Linked DNA regions of Homo sapiens: all the other regions are linked to region 1. Evidence: fine-mapped expression QTL. A gene starts in region 1. Each other region holds a variant in brackets. All regions are shown on one strand. Distances are between the middles of the regions.

Evidence for each region. PIP is the estimated chance that this variant, and not a neighbour inherited with it, causes the effect. A credible set is the group of variants that fine-mapping cannot tell apart.
Region 2: its variant is the best candidate, but not a certain one, in a credible set for the expression of LSP1 in whole blood (INTERVAL, PIP 0.73).
Region 3: its variant is the best candidate, but not a certain one, in a credible set for the expression of LSP1 in whole blood (INTERVAL, PIP 0.60).

The regions. Positions count from the first base shown.
Region 1 is chr11:1,851,516-1,855,711 of GRCh38, reverse strand. LSP1 (lymphocyte specific protein 1) reads right to left here and starts at 2,628. Exons shown (of 11, transcript NM_002339.3): 1 at 2,515-2,628. The coding sequence starts at 2,567. RefSeq lists enhancers at 257-686, 2,537-2,856, 3,848-3,897.
Region 2 is chr11:1,912,586-1,916,781 of GRCh38, reverse strand. It overlaps a transcript of PRR33 not described here. Among named protein-coding and RNA genes, the nearest start is that of TNNT3, 5.0 kb to the left of the region's middle. RefSeq lists a silencer at 312-361. The variant G/CACACAG (reference allele first, on the strand shown) is at 1,643.
Region 3 is chr11:1,935,999-1,940,194 of GRCh38, reverse strand. It overlaps TNNT3 (troponin T3, fast skeletal type), which reads right to left. Exons shown (of 16, transcript NM_006757.4): 15 at 3,192-3,232; 16 at 1,493-1,757. The coding sequence ends at 1,703. Among named protein-coding and RNA genes, the nearest start is that of MRPL23, 9.2 kb to the left of the region's middle. RefSeq lists an enhancer at 3,840-4,196. The variant G/A (reference allele first, on the strand shown) is at 2,429.

The DNA of each region.
Region 1 (4,196 bases):
GCGAGACAGGAGTGCCCCCGAGTGGAGGAACCGCAGTCCAGCCTGGCTGGTAGCCGAAGCGGAGCCTGGACCCCGCCCAGGGTCAGGGGACCTTCTTTGGCCTGAGGCCTCGTGGGAGAGGACAGTCCTGTCCTGGGGGCATCTGAGAGACCACATCATGGAGGGGTGGTTCTGAGGAATCTGGCCCCGTCCCGGGCAGTCTGAGGGGAGGGGCCACATCATGCGACAGTCTGAGGGGCTGGACCCACTTGTCCAGCTGGAGGGGCTTGGCCTGCCCTGGACCTAGTGTTGAGGGCATGTCCTGAGACCGTCACAGGCTGGCGTACCTGGCACTCTGTGACATGCACGGGGGGCTGTCTTGTCCACTGCTCCAGCCCCAGCTGAGCCTGCCCAGCCTGGGCCTTCCTGGGGACTCCCGTGTGGGGGCTTCCCAGGCCATACATCCCTGCCTGGGTGCAGGGGACTTCTGTCCCATCCTAGACAGGAAACTCCCCGGTTCCCTTAGTCACCTTGTGAAATGAGAAGCCTACCCCACTGGGGCTCTCAGTTTCATTCTGAAAGGTCAGGCTTGGCTGCGCACCCCATGCAATTCGCGGGGGCAGGGGATGTCCAAGGAGGGGGTCCAGGCTTTGCAGAGCCCAGGAGAACCGCCGCTCTCCAGCTGGAGCGCCTGACAGCCCCGGCACAGGTGCAGCCCTGGCCTCCCAGGATCTGCACCAAGATGCCCCAGGATCATCTGTGCCTTGGCCATGCCCGCTCCAACCCCCCCTCCCCGCTCCTGGCCCGGGGGATCCAGGGCATTTGAGACAGCTGGGAGGGGGTGGCCAAGGATGAGGCCAAGGAGGAAGGCGGGGGTGCCCCAGCCCAGAGGCTCATGTCCTGCCCTTCTATGGGCATGAGGTGACCAGGAGCAGCACCTAGTCCAGGGCTGGGGGTGGTGCTGACAGGAGGGCCCGTTTTGCAGCTGGGACACAGCTGTTGTGCACCCAGAAGCCTGTCTCCCTGCACACGGCCTGGGCAGGGCATCCTCCCACCTCTCCCTGGGGACAGGCACGGACGTCCCGACCCAGCCCTCAGCCAGCCCCGGCCTCTGCTTAGCCTCCACTCCACTCACGGCACTCGGGGTCCCTTCAGTGGCCCCCCGCACCTGTACCCAAGTGGGATTTGGCAGCAAGAAGTCAGAGATGCAGACCCCTCACACATACCAGACCCACAGCAATGTGACGGCCACCAAGGACACAGACACAGGACAGTGACTGCAGCCACCAACAGCACAGGAGCTTTGTGTGAAGGCCGGGAGGTGGTCCCTGCACCGCCCCGGGTCGGGTAGACCGGGACCCTCTGCTGTCAGCACCAAGGCAGAGACTGGTAGCAGCCCTGGCTGCAGTTTTGGGGTATGTGAGCGTCACCCTGGGCCTCCTCTCAGGTCCGTCCTGTGTGGCTGCGGGCATCACACTCTTTCTGCAACCTGGGCCCCAGCGCCTTCCCTTCCGCACACCAGGCCACAGCCCCCGCTGACCTGCTCCTAGGCCGGCCTCTATCCCCAGCACCGGATCCCCATCCCCTGACCATTAGCACGTCGCCCCTCTGCCCCTCAAAGCCCTACCTGTCCCTGCACCGCACGCCCTGAGCCCTCCCATCTCTTCTGGGACCTGCACCGGGGGCAACTCGGGTTCCCCTGGCGAGGCTCAGCTGTGATGCCTGGATGCCTGCTGGCCGGCAGCTCCCCTCTGCCAGGGAGCCCAGTTACTAAGCCGCTAGCCCTCTCCACCCACCCCAGCACAGGGCTGGATGCCCATTGGTACCACAGAGTACAGCTGCCCGCTAGGAGGCCTTTGGCAGCGGGGTTTTTCTGCCCAGCTCTGGCAGTCCTACACACAACCTCTGCCATGCCCCCTCATGTCCCCACTCCAACCAACACACGGTGCCTGGCACCCAGCACAGGCACCTGCCAGAATCCTTGGCCTTGTCCTTTACCGCAGGTCAAGGGCAGCTTTGGGTGCCCTGCCCTGAGGCCTGCTGGGCCCCAAGCCTGGCGGCCTCCAGACCCTCAAGGCAGGATAGCCCCTCTCAGATAGTCCTGTGGGCAGGTGGCCAGGCCCGGGCCAGTTCCACCCATCCCAGAACAGCTGCTCCCCAGCCCCCACCTTGCCTCTTCCCAAGCTAACAGGGCCCACAGTCCCCAGCTCCTCCCTGGCAGTCCAGGACACGTCTTGGGGTCTCCTCGCTTCAGGCATCCACCATGGGCTTAGGATCCCACGCGCCTCCCCCAGTGAGTCCAGGGCACAGAGGCAGGCGGAAGAGACCTCCACCCTTGTTGTGAGAGGGGGGTCCCAGCAAGACTTCCTGCCACCTGTCTGTGGGTCCCCAGTTTCCCCATCGGACATCCAAGTTCTCCCATTGGGGGCCCCAGATTCCCCATCAGGCACCTCAGTTCTCCACCCTCCATGCAGCTCAAGGACTATGCACCCGTGGACACGGCACAGGGCGCCGGGCGTCGCCGCAGACCCTTACCCCAGCAACTCTTCCCGCTCCTCGGCACCCGGGTCACTCGAAGCCTCCGCCATCAGCCTGTAGTCTGGGCCCCACAGGGTGCTGGCAGATCCCTGGAGTGGGTGTACGTGCTGTGGCTTTCAGTGCTTTCTGGGGCGGCTTCTGAGCCCCCACCCCCAGCCGAGTTTCACTTCCCCCTTCCGGCTGCAGGTTGAGGTTTGGAACCTGTCTCGGCTTGGGTCAGGGTGTTGTTTTTTAATCTGTTGCTACAAGAGGAGAGGAAGAAAAAAAAAAAAACCCAAACCACCCCTCAGGAAGCGTTAAGCAAGTTACAGGGGCCTGGGGTGACAGAGACGGGGTGCGAGGGCCAAGATGGCCGCAGGCAGCTCTTCATGGCTCGGGGAGGGGGACCCATGTTACCCCTGGTCCCCGCTAGTAGCTCTGGCCATCAGGTCCACCTGTGAGTGGCCAGTTCTCCTGCAGCATCAGGGACAAACACGTCTGTGATCCCATAAGCACCACGTGAGCGTTTTAGCTTCTTTGGGTGAAATCTACCCAGAGGCCGGCTCTCCTACAGGTGCTCATGGAACTTGGTGGAGTCTTTTCTCGAAGCCTGGGGTCATAGCCTTGAGCACATCAAACAGCTGTGGGTCCCAGGTGGCTTTGGGGGCTGTGCCCGGGATGCCCCTGCGTTCTACCCGTCGGGTGCCTTGTTCTGTCTTGGACTGCCTTGCTGATGCCGAGCTGTCGGGCATCCGCCTCGTCCCCCCGCTGCCCCTTGCTCTCCGTGCTCTGGTCGCTGGAGTTGACCACCGAGTGGTTCGTGTCCCCAGGCTCTAAAGGCAGTGCCTCAGGGACCCTCCCAAGAGGCATAGGCCAGCCCGAGGGGAGGGATGGAGGCTGTTTCCAGCCCTCACTGTCCCCAGCTTCTGGGAGTGACCACGCAGTGGCTCCAGGGTCAGGAGGAGGGATGCATGACTGCAGGAGCCAGACCCCAAAAGCTGAGGCAGGGGAGGACTTAAGCTGGGCCAGAGTAGGGCAGCCACAGAGGTGGCGAAGGCTTCCCTGCTGGAAACCTCAGCGCAGGAGAATGGGAGAAGGGAGCCCTGGCCAGCGGCTGGGCCTGAGAAATCCAACCAGCAAGGACTTACAGGGGGTCCCAAGGCAAAGAGGGGCTGGAGAGAGGCCAGGGGTTGGGAGGGCCCTGGGCCCAGAGTGTTGACCCATCAGGGTGGGGCCGAACCGGAGGCCGCCTCCTTGGGACTCAGCGAGCCCCCCACCCACCAAACACACCACAAAGACCAGCAGAGGCTTTCAGAGCCCCACGAGTGGAGGCACCAGAGGGATCCGTGGCCCAGACGATGGGCAGGGCTAAAACCAGATCAGGCCCAGCGCCATGGAGATGAACAGGCCATGCCTGTGTCTTCCCCACGCCTCCTCCCTGGGGGTCCCTAAGGGCCCCCAAGTCCCCCTTGCAGAGTGGCACATGGCAGAGCCCTGCGGTTCTCACCATGCGGCCTCCATCCTGAGGCCATCCTGAAACGGCTCCCCTCATGGTGGTAGGGTCTCGCCTCCAGGTTGCAGCCATTCCGCTCACCCACCCGTCCAGGCACTGCATCGGCAGGTGCAATGCCTGTGTCCTCCTGCCCTTGAGGTCCTTCCCTTGGCCTGCAGAAGGGCAGCCCCAGCATCGTCGCTGGGAG
Region 2 (4,196 bases), 61 kb before region 1:
AGCAGGGCTGTGGCTGGGTAGAGCTCAGAGGGACAGGCCCTGGGTCCTTGTTCTCGAGGCTGAGCCGAGGGGTGCAGATGATCTGACAAGGGGCCAGGGCTGGTCGGGGGCGGGGTGGGCAGTGGCTGCCTCCTCAGCACTGCTGACCCCAACTACCCCCTGCCCCTGGTGCTGTCCACTCTGCACCCCAGTGCTGAGTGCCCAACTGTGGCCTTTGGGCCTGCCTCTCGGCTGCCCTTGGTCACCGTCCCAAGCGGATCAGGTGGGAAACAAGGGGAGTGCTGTCACTGGGTGGTTCCCCAGCTGGGGAGGGTGGCCTGGATCCTCTCTCAGTGGCTGGGGCATCTGAGAAAGGATGGGGGCACGTCACCTCCCTTGTGTGGGTGGTGGCTCTGTCGAGGTTTTGCTTTTCTGAACTGTGTGTATTCATGAGGCAAGCAGGGTTTGACATGAAGCCTTCAGAAAATAGTGGCTGTGAGGACCCAAGGGAATGGCAAAGTGAAGTCCAGAACATCAGAGTCTGGGGTGCTGCTCCTCGAAGGGACTTCCCAGACGCTGAAGGCTGCAGGGCTGAGTGTCAGGGCCCAGTGCAAGACCTGGGAGAGGAGGGACAGGAGGGAGGGTGTCCCCAGGCTGTCTGCTATTTCACACAGTTGTCCATTCATCCACCCATCTATTCATTCCCATGCATTCACTCTCACCTTCACCACTTCCTTTCCTTCCTTCCTCCCTCCTTCTCTTCCATCATCCATCCCTCCGTCTGTCCATCCTTTCAACCACCCATACAATCACCTACCCATCCACTCATCCCTCCATTTCATCTATCCCTCCCGCCATCCATCCATCCATCCATCATTAGTCTATCCATCCATTCATCCACCCACCTATCCATCTATCTACCCATCCATCTACCTGTCTATCCATCCATCCATCCATCTCTTCATCTATCCATCTACCCATTCATGCATCCATCCATCCCTCCCTCCCTCCCTTCATCCACCCTCCCTTCATCCATCCATCCCTCCCTCCATCCATCCATCCACACATCCACTCATCACCCCAACACACACACCTCCCCACAACACACACACACACAGAAACATCACCCCCCCAAAACACACACACATAACATCACCCCCCACAACACACACACACAGAAACATCACCCCGCACACACACACATACAAATAATATCCCCCCCAACACATGCACACACAGAAACATCACCCCCCACAACACACACACACACAGAAACATCCCAGGTGTGTGACCCCACAACACACACAAAGAAACATCATCTGAGGTGTGTGACCCCACAACACATACACACACACGCAGAAACATCATCCCAGGTGCGTGACCGCACAACATACACACACAGACACACACACACAGAAACATCATCCCACGTGTGTGACCCCACAACACACAGACACACACATACAGAAACATCATCTCAGATGTCCTATCCCACAACACACACACAGAGAATAACATCATCCCCAGGGATGTGATCCCAGAACACACACACATAGCAATATCATCCCTAAGTGTGTACACCCCACAAGACACACACACACACAGAGAAACATCATCCCAGTTGTGTGGCCCCAGAACACACACACACACACACACACACACA[G/CACACAG]AAACATCATCCCAGGTGTGTGACCCCACAAAACACACAGACACAGAGAAACATCCCAGGTGTGTGACCCCATAACACATACACACACACACTCACAAACATCATCCGTGTGTCCCCACAACACACACACAGAGAAATATCATCCCCAGGTTTGTACACCCAACACACACATACACAAACATCATCCCCAGGTGTGTGACCTCACAACACACACACAGACACACACAGAGCAACATCATCCCAGGTGTGTGACCTCACAACACACACACACACACACACACACACAGAAACATCTCCAGGTTTGTACACCCACAACACACACAGAGCAACATCTCCCCAGGTGTGTACACCCCACAACCCACACACACAAAGACACAGAAACATCCCAGGTGTGTGACCCCACAACACACACACAGAGCAACATCATCCCCAGGTGTGTGACCCCAGAACACACACAGAGCAACATCCTCCCCAGGTTTGTACACCCCACAACACACACAGAGCATCATCCCCAGGTGTGTGACCCCAGAACACACACACACACACACACACACACAGAGCAACATCCCCAGGTGTATATACCCTACAACACACATAGGCACATACACAGAGCAACATCATCCCTGGTGTGTGACTACACAACACACACACACACACACAAAGAAAAACATCTTAGGTGTGTGACCCAACAACACACACACAGACACACACACAGAGAAACATCATCCCAGGTGTGTGACCCCACACACAACACACACACACATAAGGAGCAACATCATCCCAGATGCGTGACCCTACAACACATACAGACACACAGAGAGACATCCCAGGTGCATGACCCCACACACAACACACACACACATACAGAACATCATCCCAGATGTGTGACCCTACAACACACACACACACACAGAAACATCATCCCAGGTGTGTGACCCCACAACACACACCAATGTGCACCGTGGGCCTGCACCCCCACAGCAGGCCTGCACATGGGAGTCTCAGCTACGCTGCGCCCAACCAGGCGTGTTCATTGGGTAATGCACAGGTGGGAACCGGGGTACGCCCGGGTGAAATCTGTTGGTTGGATGTCACCAATCTTGCTGTGCTGCCTGGTTCTGAAAGGCCCCCCAGGAGCACCAAATGGACAGGAGGCAAGCAGCTATGCTGGGCACAGAGGTGGTCACCACCCATGGACAGGGGCTCCGTCCCCCACGCATCCTGCAATTGGGACTGGGAGTGCAGTGGGAGCCCGTGGCAGCATGACGAGGGAAAAGGAGTCCGCGATCCCAGTGCACAGCTCGTGCTCACCGCAGAGCGCGGGGTGAGGCGTCTAGGACTGGAACGAAACGACTTGGCTTAGTGGAACAGACAGGGACTGAAGCAGAGCCTCCAAACCAGAGGACACGTGAGAGACAGTGACCAAAGCTGGCCATGGACACGAGAATGCCCCAGCCAACTGTCTGCCCTCTGCGGCCAAGTCAGAACCCAACTAACTAGAAGGCGGCCCTTTCAGCAAGGGTTAGAAAGTAAAAACACACCTGAATAGCTCAGGGATCAGAGGGGACGTGGTCAGGGAGAGTGGGTGAGGCTGGAACTGAAGGAGAATGGGAGACCCCAGAGCAAAGCCCTGGGTGCAGCTAAAACAAGACAGAGGGAAATGCGAGGCCTGGATGCTTATATCAGAAAGCGGGGGCCGGGCGCGGTGGCTCACGCCTGTAATCCCAGGACTTTGGGAGGCTGAGGCGGGCGGATCACGAGGTCAGGAGTTCGAGACCAGCCTGGCTAACACACGGTGAAACCCCGTCTCTACTAAAAAAAAAACAAAAAAAAAAAAACAAAAAAGTTAGCTGGGCGTGGTGGTGGGTGCCTGTAGTCCCAGCTACTCGGGAAGCTGAGGCAGGAGAATGGCGCGAAGCTGGGAGGCAGGTTTGTGAGCCGAAATTGTGCCACTGCACTCCAGCCTGGGCGACAGAGCGAGACTCCATCTCAAAAAAAAGAAAGGAGGAAAACCAAAAAACAAAGAAAACAAAGTATGGATTACCCCAGAACAAAAAAATAGAGAGGGGAAAGTATTAATAAGTATGCATCTAGTTTATGAAATTAGGAAATGAACAAAACACTAAAACCAAGGGAAAGAAAGCAATGGAAATAATAAGAAACATAGGAGGTTAATAGAATGAAAAATAAAAATTAATGAAGATCAACAAAATTAAATATTGCTGCTGTGTTGGCCGGGCGCAGTGGCTCACACCTGTAATCCCAGCACTTTGGGAAGGCCGAGGAGGGCAGATCACTTGAGCCTAGGAGTTCCAGATCAGTCTGGGCAACATGGCAAAAACCTATCTCTACAAAAAATGAAAATAAATTAGCCAGGCGTGGTGGCAGGTGCCTGTAATCCCAGCTCCTTGGGAAGCTGAGGTGACAGCATCACTTGAGCCCAGGAAGCGGAGGTTGCGGTGAGCCGTGATCTCGCCACTGCGCTCCAGCCTGGGCGACAGAGTGAGACTCTGGCTTAAAAATAAATAAATAATTTAGAAATGGTTTATGTGAA
Region 3 (4,196 bases), 84 kb before region 1:
TGTGTGTGTGTGTGTGTGTGTTTGAGACAGTGTCTCACTCTGGTTAGTTTCTGCTTGTGCGTGTGTGTTTGAGACAGGGTCTCACTCTGTTTCCCAGGCTGGAGTGTGGGAGTGTGTGTGTGTGTGTGTGTGTGTGTGAGACAGGGTCTCTGGTTTCTGCTTTTGTGTGTGTGTGTTTGAGACAGTGTCTCACTCTGGTTAGTTTCTGCATGTGTGTGTGTTTGAGACAGGGCCTCACTCTGTTTCCCAGGCTGGAGTGTGGGAGTGTGTGTGTGTGTGAGAGAGAGACAGGGCCTCACTCTGTTTCCCAGGCTGGAGTGTGGGAGTGTGTGTGTGTGTGTGTGTGTGTGTGTGTGTGTATGTGTTGTGGGGTCACACACCTCAGATGATGTTTCTTTGTGTGTGTTGTGGGGTCACACACCTGGGATGTTTCTGTGTGTGTGTGTGTTGTGGGGGGTGATGTTTCTGTGTGTGCATGTGTTGGGGGGGATATTATTTGTATGTGTGTGTGTGCGGGGTGATGTTTCTGTGTGTGTGTGTTGTGGGGGGTGATGTTATGTGTGTGTGTGTTGCAGGGTCTGCACATGTGTGTGATGCTATCTGGAGGTTCTGTTTTGTCCTCTGGGTCCTGGCCTTGTCCCCAACCCCATCGCAGACTGAGGGGGCCGTGCTGCTCCCCCCCATCCCCCGCTCCTTGGCCCCCATCCCCGGCAGCAGAACTCCCGGATGTGGCCGCCCGCCCGCCCCTGAGTCTTTCTGGGGGCCGTTCTGGACTCCAAACCTTCCTCTGTGAATATTTTGCTGTACAAGTCTCTGCGTCTTGATCCAATTTCTATGATTTATACTTTCCATAATTTTCTCTGGTCAGGATTTTCAGATTTACGACCCGCGTGCGCTCTGCTGTCCTGCGTTCCGGAGAAGGCTGTCTGTGTCTTCCCTGCCTGCTGTCTGCTGGGAGTGCACTCTCCTGCACTGTTTTTCCCCGACCAGGGCCTGGGGTGCACCCCTCACGCAGGAGCCGCTCCCGCCTGCCTCTGCCTTTCTGGGGGGTGGCAAAGTCTCTTTCGCAGCCCTGCCCTCCTCCCTCACCCCCTCCCGAGGCAAAGTTTCTCTGCCCCCAGTGGATTGACAGCTGGCGCAGATGGCCAGGGTCTGGGGCTGGGGGTGAGGCCTGCAGATCACCCCCTTCTGCACAAAGACCCTATGGGAGTGGAGAGTGGAGGGGCCCTATAGGCTTGCGCGGGGATGGAGCCCACGTTTTAGAGGGAAAAGCTGTGGGCAGCGTCTGATGGGCATCCAGGCACCGCCCTGGCCGTAGCAGCAGGTGGCACGTGCTGGCCAGTGCCCTCCTGAGCTGGCCCTGCGCGTACTGGCCAGTGCCCTCCTGAGCTGGCCCCGCGGATGACCAGGACGCTGTGCCATTGGCTAGCCCCTACCTGCCTCCTCTCGTGTCCTCCGGGGCCCCCATGCAGAAGCAAGTACAGACTGTGAAGGGGGTTCTGCAGCTTTATTCACAGGCCCCAGGGGATGAAGGCAGCAAGGACACAGACGCGGGGGACGCCCCGGGATGGCCTCTCCACCCCCAGGACTGTCAGGGAGCCCCTGACAGGATTGTGGGGGCTGGAGGATGTGGAGTCCCACGAGCGGCCCTGGTGTGCAAGAGGGCGGAGGGTCTCTGCCTCGAGGGGCCTTTCTGGCCTCTCTACTTCCAGCGCCCGCCGACTTTGCCCTTGGCTGGGGTCCCAGCCTTCTTGCTGCTGCAAATGGGAAGCAAGTGATCCTTCAGGGTCAGGGCCTCTGGCCATGCCCCTCCTGGTCCCCCACCCTGGGCGGACTCTCAGCCCGACCCCAGGCTGCTCTCAGGGCACAGGCCCGGCCCAAGCTTGCGGCCCACACCCAGCTTCAGTCCGGGCAGTGCCCACTCACCTGTGCCTGGCGGGCCTAGGTCGTTAGTGTGGTTAGGGGGCTGGCACGTGAGCCCGGGGCACCCTCCCTCTGTCCTCCTTTCTTTGCCTGAGGTACCACTGCAGACAGACCCCTGAGCTGGGGAAGACTGTCTTAGCAGATAATGATATAATCCTAGACGCTTGGCCTTGAAAGAGCTCATGCCCCTCCAGACGGTGGCCTCTGAGGGGCCCAGGAGCCTGCCCCATTTGTCTGAGGTCTTCATGTGGCCACGAGCCGGGAGGAGCTGGGTGCGGGTGAGGGGTGAAGGCGGGTGGAGGACAGGAGTGCTTCGGCCCGCGAGGCCGGCCCCATTCAGACGCGGCTGCTCAGCAGGACACCTGGCTGGCAAAGGCCGTGCCCTCACACACGTTCCTGGGCACTCTCGGCACATGCACACATGCACACACGCAGGCACATGCACACCACGCCGACTGCCCACCCTCAGAGGGGTCTGCAATGACCCCTGACGGCACAACAGGGA[G/A]GCCGTGAGGTCACGTGCACCACGGAGGAGCCCGCCCTGGGCGCCGCAGGGAAGCCAAGGCGACAGGAGGAGGGAGAAGAATCCCAGAAAACATCGAAACTCCAAGTAGCCCCCAAACACTGCGATCCTTGGGGAAATGGCACTGGCTGTGCAGCTGGGCTCCATGACAGGATCCCCAGCGTGGCATCGCCGGGGGCACCCTGGGTGCAGCCCCATGCAGGTGGTCGAGTAGCTGTGTCAAGGGATCCCACAGCCCCCAGGGACACGATTTTATGGATGAGGTTTCACCATCCTGAGGAGTCCATGATTTTGCCCAGCGTCACAGAGGGGCTGGTGATGAAGCCCTGACTGCTTAATTCCCTGTCCTAGGTCCCCTTGGAGGGTGGGACACTGGCGGGATACCCTGGGGCCCAGGTTGGCCACACCAAAGGCCCCCCGAGTAGCCCCTTCTAGGGGTCCCCTGGCTGCCCTCTCCCTGCAGCCAGTGCCAGACTCGGGGCGAGGGCGTGACAGGCAAGCCCCATTGGGATCCCTCCTCCTGACTCTGCCACCCCCCAGGGCTCCCCTGCGTGCAGGAGAGGGAGGAGGCTCCGGGTCCCTGGCCACAGGCCTGCGCATGCTGGCCTGGGTGGCCTGGCCGGGTTAGTCTCGTTACTGCCCTGCCGAGGCCAGCCACCACCGGCCCTTGTTAGGGACTGGCTACAGCGGCTGGCCCCAAGGGCCCCTGTGCCCAGTGCGGAGCGAGGACGGCAGGGCTACTCACTGCTTCTGGGCCTGGTCAATGCGGCTCCTGAGCGTGGTGATCTGTGAACAACATGAGTGACTCACTGCGACGACCCGAGGGCCAGGCCTGCGTGTACTGGGTGAAGGCCTGTCTCCACCGCAGGGTGGGCTGGGCTGCGCGACCCAGGGCTGCTGGGCCCCCATGAGGGCTCCTCGGCTCCCTTACTGTCTCCTGGCTCCTTGTGCAGGGGGACACCGTCCCGTGGCCCCTGGGCTCATGCCTGGACTTACTCTCGCCAGCCTGTACTGGCCTGGACTGCCACACACAGCAGCCCGTAGCTGGCCACTTACCTTCAGCCTGCGGCAGGATGTGGGGCGGGGGGTACGGAGCACGGATGGGGCTGGGGAGGGGTTGCAGGTGAGGCCTGCGGACCCCTCCTTCTCAGCTCCAGCTCCCTTCAGCCGCTGAGCTCAGAGCTCCGAACGGCCCTGCTGCTCCTGGGCCAGCCGCTCCCGCCCTCGTGCCTGTGCCCAGGGGCACTCTGTGGCCGCTGCTGGCTTGAGGCGGAGCTCCTGGGAAGGTGGGGGCCCTTCCTCGCTTGCCAACAGGGCAGCGGCCACTGGGAAGCCCCCGGCTGCAGGCACGAGGGGAGAGCGGGGGCAGGAGGAAGGCTCCAGGCCCCCTGCCGCCAGCATCCTGAGCGATCCAGGTTTTTGCCATGCGAGAGGTTCACCTCACCGTGCAACGCACACCCACGGGCCTGGCCCAGGGCGGACCCGGCTACTTACAACTTGGCCAGCATCTGCACTCTGGCCCGGACATTCATGATCTAGAAAGACCAAGATGGTTACAAGGCTGGATGGGCGGCTGGGGCATCGAGGCCCGGCTGTGGGCTAGCTTGGCCTGGTGATGGCCCTCCAGGCTCTGGAGCCCCTGGGGGCCCGCTGTGGCCGCATCTATCCAAAGCCAGTGGGTCCCTGATTCAGCTCTGGGAACACAGCATGGGAAGGACCTGGGTCCTGTGCCGTGAAGCCCGTCTCAGGG